Linked DNA regions of Homo sapiens. The protein of the gene in region 1 interacts with the protein of each later gene in a pairwise test. Each region holds a gene or a part of one and is shown on either strand. Other genes may lie near its edges.

The links.
Region 2: the proteins of CD93 (region 1) and ARHGAP15 interact in a two-hybrid assay, tested with the Homo sapiens proteins (one study listed by BioGRID).

What each region holds. Positions count from the first base shown.
Region 1 is NC_000020.11:23,078,671-23,082,070, reverse strand, and holds the end of CD93 (complement component C1q receptor precursor), read left to right. Parts: 3' UTR 1-2,711; downstream 2,712-3,400. UniProt on the Homo sapiens protein: Cell surface receptor that plays a role in various physiological processes including inflammation, phagocytosis, and cell adhesion.
Region 2 is NC_000002.12:143,132,251-143,139,560, reverse strand, and holds part of ARHGAP15 (rho GTPase-activating protein 15), read right to left. Parts: intron 1-7,310. UniProt on the Homo sapiens protein: GTPase activator for the Rho-type GTPases by converting them to an inactive GDP-bound state. Has activity toward RAC1. Overexpression results in an increase in actin stress fibers and cell contraction.

The DNA.
Region 1 (3,400 bases):
GACAAAGGCTGTGTCCATTTGGCAAAACTTCCTTGGCCACGAGACTCTAGGTGATGTGTGAAGCTGGGCAGTCTGTGGTGTGGAGAGCAGCCATCTGTCTGGCCATTCAGAGGATTCTAAAGACATGGCTGGATGCGCTGCTGACCAACATCAGCACTTAAATAAATGCAAATGCAACATTTCTCCCTCTGGGCCTTGAAAATCCTTGCCCTTATCATTTGGGGTGAAGGAGACATTTCTGTCCTTGGCTTCCCACAGCCCCAACGCAGTCTGTGTATGATTCCTGGGATCCAACGAGCCCTCCTATTTTCACAGTGTTCTGATTGCTCTCACAGCCCAGGCCCATCGTCTGTTCTCTGAATGCAGCCCTGTTCTCAACAACAGGGAGGTCATGGAACCCCTCTGTGGAACCCACAAGGGGAGAAATGGGTGATAAAGAATCCAGTTCCTCAAAACCTTCCCTGGCAGGCTGGGTCCCTCTCCTGCTGGGTGGTGCTTTCTCTTGCACACCACTCCCACCACGGGGGGAGAGCCAGCAACCCAACCAGACAGCTCAGGTTGTGCATCTGATGGAAACCACTGGGCTCAAACACGTGCTTTATTCTCCTGTTTATTTTTGCTGTTACTTTGAAGCATGGAAATTCTTGTTTGGGGGATCTTGGGGCTACAGTAGTGGGTAAACAAATGCCCACCGGCCAAGAGGCCATTAACAAATCGTCCTTGTCCTGAGGGGCCCCAGCTTGCTCGGGCGTGGCACAGTGGGGAATCCAAGGGTCACAGTATGGGGAGAGGTGCACCCTGCCACCTGCTAACTTCTCGCTAGACACAGTGTTTCTGCCCAGGTGACCTGTTCAGCAGCAGAACAAGCCAGGGCCATGGGGACGGGGGAAGTTTTCACTTGGAGATGGACACCAAGACAATGAAGATTTGTTGTCCAAATAGGTCAATAATTCTGGGAGACTCTTGGAAAAAACTGAATATATTCAGGACCAACTCTCTCCCTCCCCTCATCCCACATCTCAAAGCAGACAATGTAAAGAGAGAACATCTCACACACCCAGCTCGCCATGCCTACTCATTCCTGAATTTCAGGTGCCATCACTGCTCTTTCTTTCTTCTTTGTCATTTGAGAAAGGATGCAGGAGGACAATTCCCACAGATAATCTGAGGAATGCAGAAAAACCAGGGCAGGACAGTTATCGACAATGCATTAGAACTTGGTGAGCATCCTCTGTAGAGGGACTCCACCCCTGCTCAACAGCTTGGCTTCCAGGCAAGACCAACCACATCTGGTCTCTGCCTTCGGTGGCCCACACACCTAAGCGTCATCGTCATTGCCATAGCATCATGATGCAACACATCTACGTGTAGCACTACGACGTTATGTTTGGGTAATGTGGGGATGAACTGCATGAGGCTCTGATTAAGGATGTGGGGAAGTGGGCTGCGGTCACTGTCGGCCTTGCAAGGCCACCTGGAGGCCTGTCTGTTAGCCAGTGGTGGAGGAGCAAGGCTTCAGGAAGGGCCAGCCACATGCCATCTTCCCTGCGATCAGGCAAAAAAGTGGAATTAAAAAGTCAAACCTTTATATGCATGTGTTATGTCCATTTTGCAGGATGAACTGAGTTTAAAAGAATTTTTTTTTCTCTTCAAGTTGCTTTGTCTTTTCCATCCTCATCACAAGCCCTTGTTTGAGTGTCTTATCCCTGAGCAATCTTTCGATGGATGGAGATGATCATTAGGTACTTTTGTTTCAACCTTTATTCCTGTAAATATTTCTGTGAAAACTAGGAGAACAGAGATGAGATTTGACAAAAAAAAATTGAATTAAAAATAACACAGTCTTTTTAAAACTAACATAGGAAAGCCTTTCCTATTATTTCTCTTCTTAGCTTCTCCATTGTCTAAATCAGGAAAACAGGAAAACACAGCTTTCTAGCAGCTGCAAAATGGTTTAATGCCCCCTACATATTTCCATCACCTTGAACAATAGCTTTAGCTTGGGAATCTGAGATATGATCCCAGAAAACATCTGTCTCTACTTCGGCTGCAAAACCCATGGTTTAAATCTATATGGTTTGTGCATTTTCTCAACTAAAAATAGAGATGATAATCCGAATTCTCCATATATTCACTAATCAAAGACACTATTTTCATACTAGATTCCTGAGACAAATACTCACTGAAGGGCTTGTTTAAAAATAAATTGTGTTTTGGTCTGTTCTTGTAGATAATGCCCTTCTATTTTAGGTAGAAGCTCTGGAATCCCTTTATTGTGCTGTTGCTCTTATCTGCAAGGTGGCAAGCAGTTCTTTTCAGCAGATTTTGCCCACTATTCCTCTGAGCTGAAGTTCTTTGCATAGATTTGGCTTAAGCTTGAATTAGATCCCTGCAAAGGCTTGCTCTGTGATGTCAGATGTAATTGTAAATGTCAGTAATCACTTCATGAATGCTAAATGAGAATGTAAGTATTTTTAAATGTGTGTATTTCAAATTTGTTTGACTAATTCTGGAATTACAAGATTTCTATGCAGGATTTACCTTCATCCTGTGCATGTTTCCCAAACTGTGAGGAGGGAAGGCTCAGAGATCGAGCTTCTCCTCTGAGTTCTAACAAAATGGTGCTTTGAGGGTCAGCCTTTAGGAAGGTGCAGCTTTGTTGTCCTTTGAGCTTTCTGTTATGTGCCTATCCTAATAAACTCTTAAACACATTGATTGTGAACTTGTTTTAATATATTTCACGACAACTCGAAATACCTGGCAGAACTTGCTTTCAAGGTCATTACATTTATCCATCTCCCCTTTCAAAGAGTTGCTAAAAAGAAGGTACCTTGTGGCTGAGTTTCTGCACCTGCACCTGCTGGAGGCGACAGGGGGCGCTGGGCTCTGCCTTCCTTCATTACCTCAGCAAATGTGTACCCTGCCCCTCAGCGTGCTGCCCTTGGGGACATGGAATACAGAGGGCTGGGCTGCACTGCGCCCAGTGTCCATGGCAGCTGAGTCCACTCATCCATGGCCCCCTCATCACTCTTTAATTCTCTGCATCTTGTAAATTACATGGGTGATGCCTGGCGCAGAATTAAACATGTCCAATGGATGCGATGTGAAAACACTGTTCTATAATTATCATTGGAGCATTTATCACTACTTTGTCAGCAAAGCCCTTTCAGTTTATTTAACTAATTGGACAGGCAGATCAGATCGCTGGTTGTTTGGCTGCACAAATCTCATGGTGATTCCAAGTCAGGAACAGCAGATGGTGGTCAATTCTGAGTCAGCCTGCTTTTAAGATTGTGCAAAAGGCTGTGGCAAAGGCACAGGACTTAAGAAGAACAAAGGGTTCTGCTCTGTTATGCTAATGGTACAGGACACTTGCAATAAATATCCATTATTTAGGGTT
Region 2 (7,310 bases), on another chromosome or scaffold:
AAATAGATGATAGACATTATTACTTGCATTAGTTAACTCAAACCCAACTATCACCCTAAAGCCTTAAAATACATTTATAAGAAGCAAAATAAAGAGGCAAGAGAAATAGCAATATAAAAGCCTGAGACTCTTTTGCCATAATCTAGACAAGACTCAATAGATGACCAATAGTGACCATGATGATACGTGCAAACGGAAAGAAAGGAATAAATGCTGCTTGAGTATGGCAATTGATTGGATGTATGGAATAAGTGGTATGGAATACATGATATGGATGATATCATGTCCCTTAATAATATGACTTCAGGAGTAGAGATGTAATCGAAATTGGAAGGAAGGCAAAAATAACCCTTGGGAGAGGCCATGGATTTAATGTGGGACATAATCAGTTTAACCTGCTGATGGGATATCATAGAGGAAGTATCAAGTGACAATTAGAAATAAGGAACAATTTTGACAGAGACACCAAGGCTAAAGATAGAAATTTAAGGACCGTATTTGAGGAATGAAATTGAAATTATAAGAACGTCAAAAGAGAGACCAAAAAGAAGATGGTTTAGAGCCGTGGCATCCATTAGAAATATAATATGAGCCACACACATGTAGTTTAAAAATTTCCTGTAGCCACATTGGAAAAGTTAAATGAGATAAGTGAAATTAATTTTAATAATTTTATTTAACCCAATACTTCGAAATATAATCAATGGAGCATGATTAAATGCCAAAATATTAATTATTTTACATTTTCGTTATTTGTACTATGTCTTCAAAATCTGGTGTTTATTTTACACTTAATTCATACTAGCCCTTCTTCAAGTGCTCAATAGTCACTTGTGCTAGTTGCTACCGTATTGGATAGGTGGATCTAAGAAGGAATTTTTGAGAATTAAGAGCCAGGGGGAGACATAGAATCCAGAGGAGACCAGAAAAAGAGAAAGAGGAAAGACACCTGCAGTATGGCAAAAACCAAGGCAAAAGAACGTTTTCTTCCTCACAAGTTTTACAACACTTCTGCATAGGCAATATTTGCAGAGAAGAAACAACAGGTTTCCTACAGATGGCATTGCTTTAGACATCAAACAAAGTAGGATTCTTTTAGAGCCTTTTAGACTCTAGGGCCTCATGAATAAAGTTCAGCATTGCTTAACTGCTAACACTTAACAGGCTTCAAAATTATCGCATGGCATACTGAAAATAACATGGACTTTGCATTACCCAGATCTATGTACAACTCATGACCCAGCCTACCGAGAAGCTTTGTAAATTTGCATATTTAATCTCTTAACCTTAGCTTCCTTATCTTTAAAATGGGGATACAAATTCCTTTACATGATTTTTGTGGATACCAAATGCAATTATGCATGCAAAATTCTTGTCCCATAATCTACACAGAGTAAGTCATAGCTATGATGATAATTATTAAGAATCTCACTCTAATAATTTATATTGATGAATTTCTCAAGCAACTGTAAACATCTTGAGAATAAGTTAATATTGTCTAGTTTTGGTAACAACTATAGTACTTACCACAGTGCTTGAGACACCACTGAGGTAATCACCATACATTTTTTCCTTTAATGTTCTACTTTAGGAGAACCATCAAAGTATGAATAGGTGATATTATACAGAAGCTCAGATTACTTGATTTCCCCAGTGCATTTAGCAGAGAGCTGAATTTGGGTTCCATTGCTCAGTTTCTAGTCTTTAAAATTCTAACATGAAATTAACTAAAGCAGAAAGATAAATGAACAGAAACGGAAGTTTCCCTTGACTCAGCATCCAATTTCCTGAGCATTCTACCTTCCATAGCTCTTTTAAAGAGATGTTCTGTTTTGACTCTTTTAGGAAATGGATTTAAAGTGAACATAAAATTAGTCAATTTTAATACCATGGTTTTAGTAAAATTGCTTAAAATTTAAATACTTAGAGGTAGTTGCTCTTTCTCATCAGTTTATGGCAATATGTTTTCAGCTGGTGGGTTATTTGTTCCATTTTTCAGAAGCATATAATGGATACAGAATTCAAACCCAACCTTTCATCACTGCCAACTTACTAAAACTGTACCATATATATAGTACATATAGTGTCTTTTATTTGAAATATATTTCTAGCTTCTCTTCTCCTAAATTACCCTATATTTTAGACCAGGAAAATTCACACATCTCCAGATTGTCTTCCTTGATTCTACAGCCCAAAGTCAATCTTTATGGCATTTATCCTTTCACTAAACAAATATTTATTGATATTATCATACACCTACCATTTGTTCTAGGTTCTAGGTATTTAGCAGTAAAAAGACAGGCGAGGTCAATACTCCCATGGACCACACATTCTAAGGTGAAAATAGCCACTAAACACTGAAAAATAAATAATAAATTCCATAGCCAAACTAATATGAAGGAAAACAAAAGCAGAGTAATGAGATAACGAGGTCCTTGCAAATCATGAAAGGAGATTGAATCTAATTTGAAGTATAATAGTCATTTGGAATATTATATTAAAAGAGTTTGCATGGTTGAACTCTTAAAATGGCCACTCTGTCTACTCCTTGGACAATGACTATTGTGGGGAAGATAGAAGCAGGGAGGAGAGTCAGGAGAATTCTGCAATAACAGCAGTGGAAGTGGAAAGAAGTGATTGAATTCAAGATATTCTGATGTACCTATACCTCTTGCTTAATATCTAATTCATTCCCGTGAAATACAAAGTTATTCAATAAGAGCCTAAGATTTCCAATCATCACTTATAAGTATAAAAGTATATCAATAGAACCTCAAAAAAGGATTCAAGTACATAATAGCAACAATTTGAAAGAAGACAAATTGTAAACAAAATGTAATATAAAAGGAGTTTTTATTTATTACATTTTCTCTTTCCATATCTTTTTCTTCAGTAATATTTTTAAGGATTGGGAGACTTAACGGTTTTCATGCCCTCAAAGTATACTTAATAACAAATTACAGCACAGGAGTCACCTGGAGCCGGGGGCCCAACAAAAAGTCTGACTAAAAGGTTGTAAACATTGCCACCTCTTCAACCTTCTTGAATTAATTCAAACATGTACAAATCAACATTGTTTCATATGCTTCTTGTTATTCTAACTTGAAAGCAGAGAGTAAATTGGTGTGTGTGTTTTATCTAAAGTTTGATGTTCATCCAAGTGTCATGTTGTGCTGTATTCACTTGGCAAGATTTTTTTAGAAAAGTCATTGTATTGACAACCAAAAAAATAAAAAATAAAAGAAGTATTAGACTGAAAAAAAAAAGATATAACACCTTAAGGGCCATTATTGAGAAAAGTCACGTGAACAGTATAATGAAAAGTAAGTTTATATTTTACAGGCTCTACTTATTGCTGATAAACTAGATGAAACTTTGGGTAGGAAGTAGTAGGGAAAGAGTAGAATCAAGGATAATTCTTAGACTCTTGTCCTGAAAAGAGAGATTAATATGGTGTCATTAACTAAGGTGGAGGCAAAAAGGAAAGAAGCAGGCTGGGTTGGGGGACAGGTGGGCAGTAATTAGGAGATTTGCTTTGAGTACTGTATACTCACTTTGATGTCTCTATGAGACACTCAAGTGGAGATGATGAATGGGCAATTGGATTTATAGTTTTACTGCTAAGAGAAAAGATTTGGTCTTGAAATATAATTAGTATATAGATAACATTTAAGGTCATGAAACTAAATAAAACCGCAAAGGAATAAACCTAGAAGACAAGTAGAAATCCAAAGACTGATCTCAGGACATTCCAACATTTAGAGAGCTAGATGATGAGAAAGTGTTAGCAAAGGATACAGAAAGAGCATTCAGGTAGTTTGGAGGAAAACTGGAAGAAAAAAGTATTCCAGAAGTCAAATGAAAAGAGAGTTTCAAGAGGGAAGGAGGGTTCGATAGCATCAAATGCAGCTCAGACAGTGAATAATATAAAGATACATAAATGGCTATTAGATTTGGCAAAATGAAGACCTTTGGGATTCTGTCAATGGTATATTCTATAATATTTCTATGGCACTGGACTTATATGTATAATTGATATTTAGATACTTATCTTTGTGTACCTCTTACCTACTAAACAGTTTTCATTGGCTAAGTAGCATATCTATTTCTTTGTATCTCCAGCAATCCTTAGGACAACATAGTATACTTAGAGTTCAAAATTATTTATGGAGTTGAATGGAATTGGACTAATAACCAGCAAAAGATAAAAAATAAGTTGCAAAATCCACAATTGTATTGTGTGTTACTGACAAGGATAAGTTTTAAAATAAGATATTCTGTCTAGTTTTTGACATGCAGAAAATGCTTTCATCAGATGAACTTTCCCACCATTTAGGCAAAGATAGAAACTATGAAGCATGTATTCCCTCAAATTCCTCTCCTCACTGAATCTTACTTATATCCAATTCATCTGCATTCACGCTCATTAAAGTGCTCTCTCTTCTGTTTAAGGTTAATTCATCTACTTGAGCCAGTGATTATACCCATCTGTCTTAGTCTCCTCTGAGACCTTGTTGGGTTCCTTTATTTTCATTCCTTTTCTCCTCCTTCACTTGAACATTCATATTTTATCCCCCTTTTAAGCTACTGTCTATTTCAAGCTTTAGAAAAGGAATACAGCATTTAGGCTGGGCGCGCTCTCACGCCTGTAATCCCAGCACTTTGGGAGGTCAAGGTGGGCAGATCACGAGGTCAGGAGATCGACACCATCCTGGCTAACACCGTGAAACCCCGACTCTACTAAAAATACAAAAAAAAATTAGCTGGGCTTGGTGGCAGGCACCTGTAGTCCCAGCTACTCAGGAGGCTGAGGCAGGAGACTGGCATGAACCCGGGAGGCCGAGCTTGCAGTGAGCCGAGATTGCACCACTGCACTCCAGCTTGGGTGACAGAGTGAGACTCCGTCTCAAAAAAAAAAAAAAAAAAAAGAAAAGGAATACAGCATTTCATATATGCTATCTCTAGTTCTTTGCTTCCTTTGACATCTCACTCCAAGGCTTGAGTGTCACTAAAGTCACTAATGTTTTGGTCTTTAGTTATACAGCTGAGAAAGAATACATTTTCTTACAAGGAAAGCAAATCGACCTTTAATCTTTTAAAAAGAAGATCAATTTTAACCATAATAGCAGAAATATCAATAAAACTGTGTTGAGATGCAGTTGTTAGAGACTGGCAAAACCTGCAAAGCTTGGCAACACAATCCCTTGAAAAAGCAATGAAGCTTCTGCAAGCATTCTCATTAAGTGCTGGTGGAAGTTCAAAAAGTTACAAATAACATGAAGGATAGTTTGGCAACAACTATCAAAATTATTTTATCCTTTGTCTCATAAATGTTATTTCTGGAAATGTGTGATAGATAGATAGGTAGATAGATAGATGATAGATAGATAGATGATAGATAGATAGGTAGATAGATAGATAGATAGATAGATAGATAGATAGATAGATAGATAGATTTTCAAATAGAAACAATTACATGGACATTCATTGAATTAGAAAAACTTGAAAACATCCATCACTCTTTTTACAGGAGGCTGGTTAAATTAAGTATGATATTTCCATATAGTGGAATAGTATACAGCTGTAAAAAAGAGAATTAGTTCCTTAGTTTTGTTATAAAATATCTCTAATCTATATTTCTAAAAGAAAAAAAGCAAAGTGGAGAGGTGCGTGCAGTTATGTTATATACATACACACATAGATGTGCATATATATATGGTTTTTACATAAACTGTGAAGTATAAATATATATATTAAACATGAAAAGTGGTTACGTTGGATTAAGATGGGGATAAATGGGATAGATAGAAATAAAAATATAAGAAATAGCTTATCTAAAAACATTGTGTTTTGGTTTTATATTGATTTTGAACCATCTCACTATATCATCTATTCTTAAATTAAAAGCAAACAAAACAAACAAAAGGCCTTCATCAAATGAAAAAAAAGATTGTTATAACCATAACTTGAATAAGAACCTCAGGCACCTGAACAGGTAAGTCAGTGCCTGTCCTTACAGAAATATCTCCACTGACTTCAAACTCTTCTGCAAAGAAAATGTCACTTCACAGTGAGATAAATGGAAGAAACAAATACATCCTGACCCTAGACAGACAACCCATCAAGATGTAAAAGTGTGGACATCCAATTACGTATCTCCCCTGCTCAAAAACCCTGCTGTTACTTATATCCAGGTCTACTCTATTTATGATCTCACACTATCTTTCTGGCCTACCTCTTATTACTATACTTCTGTCTAACAAAACTGGAGAATTCACACTACTTTGGAATTCTCTGACACGCCGTGTTTTTGTGCCTTGACATATTTCCTTCCTGTCCCTTGCAATGTTTCTCATCTTCCCAGTGCTAGATTTCCCTGAAAACTACCACAAAACTTTCCTCCAAAACTGTCCAGAACTCCCTGAAAGTATGTGATCAGATGATACAACACTTACAAAATTCTCTAGTTTATGGCTCGGCAAATAACAGGAATGCAAAAATGCTGGATGAATTTCTGAACTCTAATAGAGCATTCTCTGTATCTTCTTATGGTACTTGACAAATTGTATTTGCATCATAATTATTAAAATAATAGTCACTCTGGATTATAAGCTTTTAGAAGGCAAATGTTGTGAGGAGTTGTCAAACATACAGTAGCTGTTGAAAAATATTTTAAAATTTAGTTTAATTCAAACTCATGTTTCAATCAGATCCGCCTTTCAATTAAAACTGTATTTTTGTACAATTATGGAATTTGAAGAAGTTGGGAAATAATGACTGTTTAAAATGTGACCATACGTGACTCCGTAGTAGAATTTTGAGGCTTTTGTCCTTTCTTCTGGGGAAAGCATTTTAATTTCTACATCAGGAGACCCCTCTTTTTAGCAGAGAGCCCAAGTGCTGCAGCTGTAGCTGCCCCCAGTGCAGGAGTGGGCCTGTGAGCTAGGCATGGTCACGCATGCTGTCTGCACCCAAGTTCAGTAATTGTTCAGCTATGGTCATGTGATCCAATTCAGTCCCATCAGATCTAAATCTGACACTTTGCTGTGGTGACTGGGGAAAAGCATTCTTTCCCCACAGTTTGCTGAAAGGATCAACTCAGTAGGAGCTTGACAATTTCGTGAGAGCTTCCACTAGAGACTGCTTACAGCATAGTGAAAAGAAGAGCTGAGGAATGAAAAAAATGAGACCTACTCCTGATAATCCTGTGTGAGCTCCTGGATCCAGCCATTCCTGACTTTGCTATCCTTAGACTTTTCACACATAAAAGAATATCTCTTTTGCCTAGGCTAGTTTGAACTCATTTTCTA